Homo sapiens: one gene and its partners. The protein of the gene in region 4 interacts with the protein of the main gene of each other region in a pairwise test. Each region holds a gene or a part of one and is shown on either strand. Other genes may lie near its edges.

What was found.
Region 1: the proteins of SACM1L (region 4) and TRPV2 interact in a protein complementation assay, tested with the Homo sapiens proteins (one study listed by IntAct).
Region 2: the proteins of SACM1L (region 4) and RNF19B interact in a two-hybrid assay, tested with the Homo sapiens proteins (one large-scale study listed by BioGRID and IntAct).
Region 3: the proteins of SACM1L (region 4) and MTERF2 interact in binary tests that used the Homo sapiens proteins (3 or more experiments, as listed by UniProt).

Annotation. Positions count from the first base shown.
Region 1 is NC_000017.11:16,422,071-16,425,570, forward strand, and holds part of TRPV2 (transient receptor potential cation channel subfamily V member 2), read left to right. Parts: intron 1-528; coding exon 529-819; intron 820-1,398; coding exon 1,399-1,697; intron 1,698-3,500. UniProt on the Homo sapiens protein: Calcium-permeable, non-selective cation channel with an outward rectification. Seems to be regulated, at least in part, by IGF1, PDGF and neuropeptide head activator. May transduce physical stimuli in mast cells.
Region 2 is NC_000001.11:32,947,810-32,951,309, forward strand, and holds part of RNF19B (E3 ubiquitin-protein ligase RNF19B), read right to left. Parts: coding exon of another isoform or gene 3,485-3,500; exon of another isoform or gene 3,399-3,484; intron 1,966-3,398; coding exon 1,760-1,965; intron 558-1,759; coding exon of another isoform or gene 555-557; coding exon 413-554; intron 1-412. Other genes in the region: metallothionein-1E-like, read right to left, coding at 3,485-3,500.
Region 3 is NC_000012.12:106,980,647-106,984,146, reverse strand, and holds part of MTERF2 (transcription termination factor 2, mitochondrial precursor), read left to right. Parts: intron 1-3,433; exon of another isoform or gene 3,434-3,500. UniProt on the Homo sapiens protein: Binds mitochondrial DNA and plays a role in the regulation of transcription of mitochondrial mRNA and rRNA species.
Region 4 is NC_000003.12:45,706,396-45,709,895, reverse strand, and holds part of SACM1L (phosphatidylinositol-3-phosphatase SAC1), read right to left. Parts: intron 3,117-3,500; coding exon 2,989-3,116; intron 399-2,988; coding exon 249-398; intron 1-248.

The DNA of each region.
Region 1 (3,500 bases), on a different chromosome or scaffold from region 4:
GAGGTGGGCAGATCATGAGATCAGGAGATCGAGACCATCCTGGCTAACACGGTAAAACCCGTCTCTGCTGAAAACAAAAAACAAAACAAAACAACAAAAAAAATTAGCCGGGTGTGGCGGTGTGCGCCTGTGGTCCCAGCTGCTGGGGAGGCTGAGGCAGGAAAACGGCGTGAACCTGGGAGGCAGAGCTTGCAGTGAGCCAAGATTGCGCCACTGCACTCCAGCCTGGGTGACAGAGCAAGACTCTGTCTCAAAAAAAAAAAAAAAAGAAAAGAAAAGAAAAGAAAAAGAAAAAAAAAGAAATTTCGTTTCTAGGGCAGAAATTGTAGTCATGTCTGTTGGTATTTCTTATCTGTTACTTGGAGCCTTAATAGCCTATAACATGGTTGTGCTCCCACCAGTTATGTGTAGCATCTCTTTTAATCCTCCCAAGGGGTACTTTGAGCTGGGCTTATAAGAGCTATCGGGCAGCCCAGCCACTCCAGGTCTCAGCACCACTGTGCCCCTTCCCCTCCCTTCTTCCCACAGAGGGCTCCACAGGTAAGACGTGCCTGATGAAGGCTGTGCTGAACCTTAAGGACGGAGTCAATGCCTGCATTCTGCCACTGCTGCAGATCGACAGGGACTCTGGCAATCCTCAGCCCCTGGTAAATGCCCAGTGCACAGATGACTATTACCGAGGCCACAGCGCTCTGCACATCGCCATTGAGAAGAGGAGTCTGCAGTGTGTGAAGCTCCTGGTGGAGAATGGGGCCAATGTGCATGCCCGGGCCTGCGGCCGCTTCTTCCAGAAGGGCCAAGGGACTTGCTTTTATTTCGGTGAGTGAGCCTTTCTTGGATAAATCGAGGCAAAGAGAGAGTAAGGCCTGGTTCAAGGTCACATGGTTAGTGTATGACAGAGCTGGCAGTTAAACCTAGGTTTTTCTGACCCCGATGCCCTGCTTCTAACCACTAGGCTGCCTGCAAAAGCAGTTTGTCTTTTGTCCAGGCCAGCCTCAAACTCCTGGGTTCTAACAATCCTCCTGCCTTAGCTTCTCGAGCTGGGGCTACAAGTGTGTGCCACCACATCCAGCATTAATTTGTCATAAGAGATGTTTCATCCTCGTCTGGCCAGAAGACGGGCATGCACCCAGACCCAGACCCAGGGAAAGAAATAGGGGCTGCTAGCACTGGCATGTGACTTGGCCAGGCAGAGCCTGAATAAAGAGGCAGCATGCCTGGGCTCTGGCAAAGAAGACAGCAAAAGGCAGCAGGTTGGCTGGCCCCTGTTCTGCTCCCTTCAGTGGTAAAGAAGCCTGACCTGTTTCAAGGAGGGCTGGCCTTTTGTCCAAGGAGCATGAGGAGTAGGCAGATGGAAAGCAGGAGGCCTGGGGCCCAAGCTGCTCTCTTGGCCTGCAGGTGAGCTACCCCTCTCTTTGGCCGCTTGCACCAAGCAGTGGGATGTGGTAAGCTACCTCCTGGAGAACCCACACCAGCCCGCCAGCCTGCAGGCCACTGACTCCCAGGGCAACACAGTCCTGCATGCCCTAGTGATGATCTCGGACAACTCAGCTGAGAACATTGCACTGGTGACCAGCATGTATGATGGGCTCCTCCAAGCTGGGGCCCGCCTCTGCCCTACCGTGCAGCTTGAGGACATCCGCAACCTGCAGGATCTCACGCCTCTGAAGCTGGCCGCCAAGGAGGGCAAGATCGAGGTGAGCGGCTGTCCCCTTCCCACTTCCCCTCTCCAGGAAGCAGTAGGTCTCATCCCAAAATTTCTGCAGAAAGAACCCAGGGGGTGGTGAAGAGCAGTGGCTTCTCTGCTTTTCAATGGAACACTCCTGTTAGTAAGAAAATTTTCAGTATGTACCTCTGATATATTTCTGTTTATTTATAAATTGCATATGAACTACTGAATATATTACATTATAAAACATTGAGATTTTTTTTTTTTGAGACGGTGTTTCGCTCTTGTTGCCCAGGCTGGAGTGCAATGGTGCGACCTCGGCTCACCGCAACCTCTGCTTCCCAGGTTCAAGCGATTCTCCTGCCTCAGCCTCCCAAGTAGCTGGGATTACAGGCATGTGCCACCACACCCAGCTAATTTTGTTTTTTTTTTTTTTGAGACGGACCCTCGCTCTGTCACCCAGGCTGGAGTGCAGTGACATGATCTCGGCTCACTGCAACCTCTGCCTCCCAGGTTCAAGCAATTCTCCTGCCTCAGCCCCCTGAGTAGCTGGGATTACAGGCACCCACCACCATGCCTGGCTAATTTTTTTTTTGTATTTTCAGTAAAGAGGGGTTTCACCATGTTGGTCAGGCTGGTCTTGAACTCCTGACCTCGTGATCCACCCGCTTCGGCCTCCCAAAGTGCTGGGATTACAGGCACGCGCCACTGCACCCAGCTAATTTTTTGTATTTTTAGTAGAGATGGGGTTTCACCATGTTGGCCAGGCTGGTCTTGAACTCCTGACCTCAGGTGATCTGCCCACCTCGGCCTCCCAAAGTGCTGGGATTACAGGTGTGAGCCATGGCACCCGGCCAAACATTGGGAATTTTTAAAAGTCGTTTGTGTTTCTTTATTAAGAGATAGCCTTTTTATATCTTTTGCCTATTTTGCTATTCTGTTTCTGCATATTTATTGATAACTTTATAATGAATTTAGTATTTTGTCTACCATAGCACTTGTAAAATTTCTCCTAGTTCATCATTTGTCTTTTGAATTTTATGTTTTTTTTGCTATACAGGATTTAAAAATTTTTATAATCTGCAAGTGTGACTATCTTTTCCTTTAAGGTTCCATGGTTTTGCTATTGTCTAATTCCTGCTACAAGATTTTATATATATAATACATATTATATGTACATAATATATGTTATAACTATTATACATTATATTATACATTATAATTATATATAGTATATATATAATCTTCATACCCATATTTTCTTCCAAACTTTTGCAGCTGCATTTTTTTTTTTTTTTTTTTGAGATGGAGTTTCGCTCTTGTTGCCCAGGCTGGAGTACAATGGCGCGATCTCGGCTAACTGCAACCTCCGCCTCCGGAGTTCAAGCGATTCTCTTGCCTCAGCCTCCCGAGTAGCTGGGATTACAGGCATGTGCCACCACGCCCGGCTAATTTTGTATTTTTAGTAGAGACGGGGTTTCTCCATGTTGGTCAGGCTGGTCTCAAACTCCCGACCTCTGGTGATCCACCTGCCTCAGCCTCCCAAAGTGCTGAGATTACAGGCATGAGCCGAAACGCCCAGCCTGCAGCTGCATTTTTAATGCCTAGAGCTTTGACTAGCTGGAAGTTATTCTGGTAGGAAGAGTAAACATGAGGCAGCCCCCACTTTGTTCCAGATAGCTTACCAATGGCCTGTTCCAAATAGCTTTTGCCAATAGCTCACCAGGGCTGGCCTCATGGGCTTACAGTGGAGATTTTTGAAAGATTAAGGAAACGATAAACATAAATAGAAGTTTTAACCCTTTTTCGCTGCCCTCCCAAGTTTTTTGGA
Region 2 (3,500 bases), on a different chromosome or scaffold from region 4:
ATGACAAAAGATAAAAGAAAGTCAAAGAATGAGGCGGAAAAAGGAGAGGCAACATGGATGAAAGGCATTTAAGTGGCTCTTAAAAGATAAGAACTGAACAAGTTGAGATAAAAGGAGGATACTGGAAGGTAGGCAGAAAGCATTCTAGGCAAAGGAAAGAACATGAACAAGTATGGAGGCAAGACAGCAAAAGGGAAAAAGCAAGTCCAGACTACCTGTAATATGGCAAGCAAAGAAAGGTAGAAACAGAATAGTAGCTGGTGAAAACATGATTAGAGGAGCATGTCAGAAGAAGTTTTCACAGCTTCCTTAAACCTGTAATGAGAGAACGGATGTGTCTTTTTGACATCCTTTTCCCTAAATCAGTAAGAGAATGAGACTACGAAAGGAATGGATGCATTTCCCATCTTACCTGAGGTAATGCAAGTCTGAGATCTCTTTCATACAAAGCCAACAGAATTCACAGCCACACACTGCACAGGTCATGTGATTACAGCTTCCATCATTCATCTTGATAATGTATGCACTGCATCGTGGGCATGGCTTGATGTCATCTGCTATGAGTGGGGGAAGAATGGGTAGAAAAAATACCCCTAGTTAAATCCAGTTTGATTTAATTGTTCCTAGGAGTATATATAAGAAATGAGGCAGCAGTCAAGAACTCTTCACTGAACACTCCAAATTGTACAACCCACTTTACTGGAAGGTTGGCTATGTCTAGACCTCAGGAATTTTCATAAAATGAATCCTGTCTCTTATTGAGCTGCCTATCCCAACAACTGGCATCTTACACAGCACTTGAACCACATTCTAGCAAGGAGATTTCCTTAGGGAGAAAGATGTTTCCAAGAAAAATGAAATTTCTACCAGTCGATAGGCTGGTAGATTTAAAAGAAGAATCCTACAGAAAGAATAGCCTGCAGCCTGGAATTAGCTTTACATTTTTAAAAACTTTAGTTTGGGAAATTTATTTTTCAGGTTCAACATGTATCATTGTGATTTGCTGTTAACATAGCCCACAATCCCTTCCCATGATACTTTCAAATTCAAAACCTAAAAACAACTGGGTATGCTATCTACCATATACTTGGTAATTTTCAGAGCAAGTTATGAACTATCCTAATAAAATGACAATTTAGGAAATTATGCTGTGCCAGGAAAAAGTGAATGGCAAAATCTTTCCTACTAGCCTCTCCCAAATGACATCAGCAAAATAAAAGTACAAAGCAATAAATCCACTGACATTTTAAAATAGGTTTCCTCTGACTCGCCAAGGTTGGAGCTGAATGTGTGACATTCCTCCTTTTAAGGTTAATCATTAATCTATACTAATACTGTTTCCTTTTCTTCAATCTGTACTCTACTTCCAAAGGCAGTGAGGCACTTAAGTCAGCTTGAAGGCAAACAGCACAGGTTTAATACTAATTAAATGTCTTTCTGTTCACAATGAAAGTTTTGAAAAAGCCCCTAGCAAAACAAAATGAACTAATTGCTCTCCAATCTGAGACATATTACTAAGAAAGTAGGAACTACATAATTCAATTTTGTTGCATTTCAATTTTATATAGTTGGATAACCTATAATGGTCAGAGAGGGAAGTGCTATCTTTATTATAATATTGAAAGTATTATCAAATGATATTTTCTGCTCTCTGATCCTTTGGAGTACTTGGGTTATACAATAAGATAATTTCTTTCAGCTATGGGCTCACATCATGAAATACCAAATAAAGAGACAATGAGATAATGCCAACTTATACCTGGTCCAGATTCTTGCCCATAACTGAGACCTGAAGTGTGTTTGGTCCGAACTCGTAAAGTCTGGGCCCTCTGTTGACGGGCCATATCGCATGTCTGATTTGGATGCCATATCTGCTTGCAGTGGTAGCAGAACTCAGTCTGGCAACCTTCCCTCTCACAAGTTAGCTTCGGGCAGCTGGCACAGCCATAGGCAATAACAGCATAACTAGGTAAGGAAACAGTAAGAGATACCAGTAAGGTAAGAATGATCTAACCAAAAGAGACATTATTCATCAGAGTTAACAATGTTTGGCACTACCCCACTATCACATATGATACAGAGAAAAGAATACACATACACACATATACACACACAAGCACATTTGACCAACTGTAAAATATATCCCATGTGAGAAAGTAAACTTTTTTTTTTTGAGACAGTCTTGCTCTGTCACCCAGGCTGGATTGTGGAGTGCAGTGGTGTAATCTCGGCTTACTACAACCTCCACCTCCCAGGTTCAAGCAATTCTCCTGCCACAGACTCCCTAGTAGCTGGGATTACAGGTGCAAGCCACCACGCCTGGCTAATTTTTTTTGTATTTTTAGTAGAGATGGGGTTTCACCATGTTGGCCAGGCTGGTCTCAAACTCCTGACCTCAGGTGATCCACCCGCCTCGGCCTCCCAAAGTGCTGGGATTACAGGCGTGAGCCACCATGCCTGGCTATAAATTTCTTGAGATTCCAAAAACACAAATCATTTATTTACTTTAAAAAGTGGAGGTGGAGTATCTTATTTATCCTGGATTTCCAGCATTTATTCAATCATAGCTGAAGCTGCTTTAGGAGTAGTTTGTCATAATAAGTTTCATAAATAACAGGGTACAAAACTATTTCCTTTTGATAGTTTGCTATATTTAGAGAGATTAGTATTTGTTTATACGAAGGAAGAGGACATTAGTGAAATAAAGAGCTATGGCAAAAACTAAAGTTTATTTTTTAATTCCTTCTTTTTTTTTTTTGAGATGGGGTCTCACTGTCACCCAGGGTGGAATGCAGTGGCTCACTGCAACCTCCGCATACCAGGCTCAAGCAATCCTCTTGCCTCAGCCTCTAGAGTAGCTGGGACTACAGGTGCGCACCACCACACTTGGCTAATTTTTGTAATTTGCATAGAGATGGGGTTTCGCCCCATTGCCCAGGCTGGTCGCAAACTTCCGGGCTCAATCAATCAGCCTGCCTCAGCCTCCCAAAGTGCTGGAATTACAGGCATGAGCCACCATGCTACCTTTTCATTCTTTTTTTTTTTTTTTTGAGATGGAGTCTCGCTCTGTCGCCAGGCTGGAGTGCAGTGGCGCGACTCGGCTCACTGCAACCTCCGCCTCCCGGGTTCAAGCGATTCTCCTGCCTCAGCCTCCTTAGTAGCTGGGACTATAGGCATGCATCACCATGCGCAGCTAATTTTTGTATTTTTGTAGAGATAGGGTTTCACCATGTTGGCCAGGATGGTCTCGATCTCTTGACCTTATGATCCGCCCTCCTCGGCCTCCCAAAGTGCTGGGATTACAGGCGTGAGCCACTGCACTCAGCCTTTTTCATTTTTTTTCTTCAAGTAAAAATTGTTTTATTGTCATTAACATATTTAATATAAAAAGAAATGAAGCAAATGGCTCAGTGTTGTATTTTTTAAAAAATCCAGGTTTGTGCAGGTTACTCTATTTACATCTGGGAGCAGAGCTGTCCCCACGTCAGGCATAGCAGTTG
Region 3 (3,500 bases), on a different chromosome or scaffold from region 4:
CTGAGCTCAGCACAGGAGCAGGAATGACCCTGGATAATGAAAGCTGTGACTGGATAATGAAAGCTGTGAAGGGGAGCTAGTGATAGGTTTATGTCTGCTGAGAGGAGCTGCTCTCCTTTCTTTGTACAGATAGGAGGCAAGGGCACTGGTTGTGAGTGAAGGTGGGTATGGAGGTAGGTGGGAGGCCAGAGGTCTGAGTTGAGAAGATTTGAGATAGTTGGTGGGAAGTGTGGAAGAGTGAGTCAACCAGAGCTGGTTTGAGGATGGTCTGGCAGGGGGAGCCAAGTATGCAGCAAAGACCAGAAATGAGCCTCTTGGCCCCTTTGGGGAATTGCAAAGTAGGGGGATGAGGATGGAGGCAAATTAGAGACAAAAGCTACATTTAACATATGATAAAGGAGGCATCATAAGTCATGGGGAAGGAAAGGATTGTTCAGAAAATGGTACTTGGAGAGAAGTAAACTATTGATAAAATCTATTTAGATTCTCAGCTCACACCCAGAAATTTCAAATGAACTTAAGGAGCTAAGTTTTAAAGTTCAAACAAAAATATGGGAGGAAATAATGGATGAATTTTTACTGATCATCTGGTACTTAAAAGCAGTAAGGATCATCAAGGAAAACTTCCCTGACCTTCCTTTGACCACGTGAAATTAACTGCTTTGTTCTAACAGATACTGTAATATGAACTTTGATAACATTATGCTAAATGAAATAAGCCAGACACGAAAGACAAATATTATATGACCCCACATATAAAAAGTACCTAGAATAGGCAAATTCATAGAGACAGAAAGTAAAATAGAGGTAACTGGTGTCTGGAGGGAAGAGGGTATGGAGAGTTATTGTTTAATGGGCACAGAGACAGAGTTGGTGTTTGGGATAGTGGTCATGGTGGTACAACATTGTGACTATACTTTAAGCCACTGAATGGTACACTTGAAAATGGTTTAAATGGTAAATTTTTTGTTATTTATATCTTACTACAATTAAAAAAGGGGCTACTTTGGTATGCTAAAATATACCATCAACAACTGAAAATGAGCTGAAGAAAATATTTTCAAAAATGAGATTATATTTCTTAATTCATAGAGTTTATACAAGTCAATTTTTAAAAAGCAGAACGATTGCAGTTTTACAAGTCAGGAATGGTTGATTCACAAAAGGAAATAAAGATGAACGAAATAGTTTAATTATGAAAACATCACCCTTATAAATAATAAAAAGAAGTTAAATTAGTGTTGTATCATTTTTTACATATCAAAATAAAAACTGATGAGAGAATCACTCATACTGCCTGTGAGAATGTCAACTGAGATAGTTTTTCCTGACAGGAAATTTAGCAGCTTTGCTTTCCCAGTGTTCACGTATCTCCTCTTCAGTCAGGAAATCTATTTCTAGGAATTCATCCTAAAGGAAAAGCATATGAGATGTGGACATTTATTCAGCATATAGCAAAAATTACAAATAGCCTAAATGCTCAATATAAGGAATGAATTACAAAATAACAGTATATCCATCCCATATACCAAGCACTCAAATGTTTACAGAGCATTTTTAATACCACAGTTAGATACTTACTGTGAATAAAATAGAAGCAGAAAGATAAATTAGATACAAATATATGTATTATGTGTTCATTACATAGGAGTCACAACATTCATACTTTTCACTTCCATAGTCAGTTGTGTTTGCTCATCAGAGACTAAGCAAGGCAGATTAACTAGTAAAGACGACTCATCTGAACACATCACAGTTCATAACCAACTACTTCATCTGTGTGGTGTCTGCATAAGAGATTTTCAAGAAAAATTCTGAGTCTTTGTAATTTTCACTTTATAGGCTGAATTCAGAACCTCAGTACCATGTGTAGGGAAGGTAACACACAGGAGACCAGTAATACACTATCTTTCAGCAAGTCCAGCACAGCCAGGAGTTCCTGGGGTTTGGAACCCCAGGCTAAGCACTAGATGCTGCAGTTGGCTTGGTTGGGGGTTACATTATACAGAATGACGGATCATTAAACATTAGAAGGACATCGACCATGGCAAGGCACATCCACTGACAGAGGCTCCTGCACAGTGAGGCTAAGGGAACAGCAGCTGTCTGCATTTCCTGCTTACTCCAAGCTGAACTGTGATGTGTTCAGGTCACACATCATCATGTATGCCAAAATATGAACAGTTGTCTTCAGTGGTGGGGATTGTGAAAGACTTTTTCCATTTCCTTATACTTTCCAGAAGTTGGCAATTTTTCCACATTGAATGTGCATTGCTTTTATAAGCAGTTATTTTGGGAAACAGAAGCATTTAAAATCCATTTTTTAGGCCAGGCGTGGTGGCTCACACCTGTAATCCCAACATTTTGGGAGGCCGAGGCGGGTGGACTGCTTGAGCTCAGGAGTTCCAGACCAGCCTGGGCAACATGGCAAAACCCTGTCTCTACAAAAAGTACAAAAATTAGCCAGGTGTGGTGGCTCATGGCTGTAGTCCCAGCTACTCAGGAGGCTGAGGCTGGAGAATCACTTGAGCCCAGGAAGCAGAAGTTGCAGTGAGCCGAGATCACACCACTGTACTCCGTCCAGCCTGGGTGACAGAGTGAGAACCTGTCTCTTAAATACATACATACATACATACATAAACTTTTTGGTTTTCAGTTCTCTTTGTAAATAATCTATTTCTGTCTAAAATACAATTTAAAGTCATACTACTACAAGACTTCTAGCTCCAGAAATTTTACTCTGTACCAGGCATTGTGCAAAGTATTTGACATGCATTTTAACCCTTACAGTTTTCCTGTAAGGCTTAGATTCTGTTCTTTCCATCTCACAGATTGCTGCTGGTAATACTCATTGAATAGTTAGTGTGAGGCGCTGTTCTAATCACTGCTGTCTTGTTTTCTCTGAGGCTAACTTACCCAAGGGTGCCCCATAAGCTAGAGCCAGGATTGGGTGTGGGTGGTTGGCAGCAGCCCACGCTCCTCCCCCACGTGTGGTACAGAGGTGCAGCCTGAGCTTGTGGGGTCGCTCAACAGGGAGTGGGGAGCGGGATCCCAGCCCAGATCTGCCTGTGCTTCATCATGCTGCGCCGCCTCCTTCCTGTTCAAGTTGATGGCCTTCTTAGAAAGTTTTTAAAATAATATTTTCATCTTGGCTTAACAGTATTAGGAATTATCTGAAGAAAATTCTAGTTGAACCACTAAGAGTAAAACAAGCTATGCCTACAATTATTTTAGTCTCCATAGGCGCTCACAGTGAGCTAAATCAAAATGGGAAACCAAAATGGAAAGGGTGTTACCTAACTTTCCTAACAGAATAATCATTTATTTGGATTAGTTAAGACAGGGCTGAAAGTGAAGAGTCCCCAGCATACCTGGCAAGGGCGTTTAAATTAAAGTCAGGGATGGAAATGGCTGCTTTCTTCTTTTCTTTCAGACCTGTAAAGAGTGAGGGAAGGCTGCCAACAGGCTAAATTGAGCCGTACTACACACTTTTGTGGCAA
Region 4 (3,500 bases):
GTGTTTATACAAAGATTTCTGAATATCTACACCAGTGATTCTCAATTCTGGCTGTATATATACACAGATTCAAGGACTCACACACTGGGATTGTGATGTATATTTAAAACAGGGTATATTTTCAAAGCCTCATACATGATTCTAAGATAGCCAGGACTGAGAAAAATCAATATAAATTTTTATGCATGAAACAGAGACATGTCCCTTTTAAAAACCTAAAAATAAAAATAATTGAAGATCAAGCTTACCCTTTCCAAGAGACTCATTTCTTGGAATTCAGGACTAGTGTTGGATAGCCGCTGCAAAGTATGGGTCAAATCATATGTTGTTGAAAAGTAAAATCCATCCACATTCAAGACATGGTTTAGCATCGCTAGGAAGGTTTTATTATCTTGTAACTATAAACAAAGAAAAATCAGTATAGCTCATAATTGAAAAGGAATCTGCCAGCATGAGAAAAGAATACAAATTAAATCCTGTTAAGTCCAGTCTCATTAAAGACTACTGGCACAAGGACTGAGCCAGTGAGGGGGATGCTCGCCATTTCCCTGGGATGTAGGACAGTTCCTGACACACAGAAGATACTCAATAAACACTGTAGGGTACTATTAGGTAACTTGATTAGGTAGGACTCCTCCCCTTTGTATCCTTTACAAATTTTATTCTCAAAGGCAGAAGAGTAGTTTTAACAAAACATCACCTTCGGTTATGACCTACTGTGTGCCAGGTATTTTCCAAAGATTCCCTTTAATCTTCACAACAGCCCTGCTAAGTTAGCATAGCTATCTTCGACAAATAAAACACATAAATTTACGACGGGCCCAATAATGCAAACAGCAAATAACAAGATACTAACATCATCCACATTCTCAAGAAACGTTCCCTGGTTTGGGATGGACGAGAAGTAAAATGGAATTCTTTTTCTTTAAAACAAAGATTAAAAAGTCCAGTAAAAGCAATATTTATCTTTATTTTTGGGAAACCATTTTAACTAGCTTTCCCAATGAATACTAAGATTGACATTTGTTTTTATCCTTGTTTTAAAAAACAATTGTTAATGTTTGGTAACGTTTAATCATTACTAAATGATTAACTTGTTAATCTACATGTTACAAATCTACATATACAAAATTTTTTATTTGTGCTCAGACATGTTTTTAAAATTAGCTACACAGCTTGACAACAAAGAATAACAATCGAGAAGAAATTGTCTAAGTAAATATGACTGGTCTATTAAATAAATACAGCTGTTTTTATTTCTTTAAAATATGCCTAGTAGAGAATGAAGATATTGATATATATTTCTTGATATATATAATAAAAAAGAAATTCTAAAGTATAAAAAGCATATCCTGTAGTTTTACTCAGGTAGGCAGTGCTATAATTTTATTTTTTAAAATGTTTATCCTAAGTTATATGTTTTAGAATAATATATTTTCTTCTAGAAACATTCTTATAAATTGGGTGTAAAAATACAACTTAAAATTTTTAAATAGCAAACATGTAACTAAAATTACATTAAGAAAACAATCACTCTCAACAGGTATATATATCTCTAAACAATGTTGACTTTAAAAAGTAAGTTTCAAAGAATCAGAACAGGGCAATGCCATTCATGTAAGTTTCATACACACTCCGAGCAAAAACAGATCCTGTTTAAATATGAATACAGGCAGTCTTTACTTTGTAAAGTGGGAATGTAAAAATTACCATGTTATTTTCATCTTAATAATCTTAAGCTATCTTAACAGTCAATTGTAAAAACTATGACTGTTTCATGACCTTTAAAAATTTTTTTTGTCAAAACATTAAAAACTCTATTGTAAGTTATAGATATTAGTTATAGATATTAACTTATATAGTTACGTTGTAGATGTAACTTGTAAGTTATATATAGTAAATTATAAGCATAAATGAACAAATTGTAAAACTAATATTTAGCACACTATAATTTAAAACATTAGAAACACCGAGAATAAAAAATATTTTCTTTGTAAAAAAATTTATCAAGAGACTTGAACAGTGCTTGCCGCCTTCTTGTCATATAGATTAAGATACAGAATATTTCTTCTATCCCTGGTGAACTGTCATACACCTTCCTAAGTCTAAACCAACTTCTGACATTTTATCCTTTGCACTTTCAATGTTGGGAAATATCTCCAAGGTTTCCTTTAATGGGAAGTCTGTTGCAGGCATCACTTTCTCTGGGATACTGTCATCCCTTTCGTCACAGCCACTCCATCATTAATGTCGGTCAGTTCGCCTGCACCAGGACCTCTGGCTGCATACCTACTGTCCCTTGAATGGTGAATAGTGTCAGCATTCCCATGGTCAGCTACTTCTTCTATGCTCCATTTATGTTCAATTTCAATTTCTCTTCCAGAGTTGTTGCTTTTTGTTTTTTTGCACCTTCATCTTTGGTGGGTTAATTCTTCAGTTAATAAACTGGAGTAACTGAAATTTAAGCCATGCTGTTTGGGTACTGGTGTTAACTAAACTATGGTTACTGAAATCTGTGCATACAGGAATAGTGCAAAAGGAAAACTGCCTGAAAGAATATATACACATTTCATAAACACACACACACACTTACATTCACATGTGGTAAAAATAGAGAAAACCTCTCTGGGAAAGAAGGGAATGAGTTAAGAGGAGTAGAACTTCAAAGGTATTTATATTTTATTTCTTTACAAAGAGGATATGAAGTTAAATCTGGTGTTGAGTACCCGTGCATTTCTGTTTTCCCTTCTCTCCATATGAAATTGCATAATTTAAGAACTGAATCTTTAAAAAAAAAAAAACAAGAGCAACAAATGATTTAAAAAATATTTTTTATGCCTAGGTAGAAAAGTAGGTAGAGTGATCTTACTCTATAGGTTGTTAAAATAATTATAGCATTCTTTGTATTCCACAACACCCTCACCCTCCTCTCCCCAGCCCATGCTACTTCTTTGGGCGCTGCAATTAGTAACAATTTCCAGTTCTTACCTGAATATCAGTTAAGTGCAACATTGTCTTCTTATAAGAAAGGACATCAAAATCTGTTGCTTTCCAGACTACATGACTGAAAAATTCACCTACTTTTATCTTTTTGGTAATGACTATAAGATAATTACCTGCAAAAAGCAAGCCAAACACACATAATTATAAAAATAGTAACTCTAAAGGTAGAAATAGGAGTCCTTATTGTTTAACTTTAAAGGCTAGTAGAATGAGACTATATTGTGCCACTCAGATAAAAGGCCCATTTTTAAAGCAACCTTACAATTTATGAATAGAAAGGTCAGCATATTATTTAGAAAAATTCTTACTGAAAGGTCATGTTTTTCTCAAAAAAGATAAAAGCAAAAGCTTTTCATAACCAAAGGATTTGTCTTAGTAAATGGAAAGTAGAGACAGAAAATACTTCTCTTTCTCTCTTTCATCACCCCCAAGGGATACAGACCTCTGCTAATCATTTCCCAGCAGGCAGCTTAAAGCATCAGGACGTGAGATCTGAC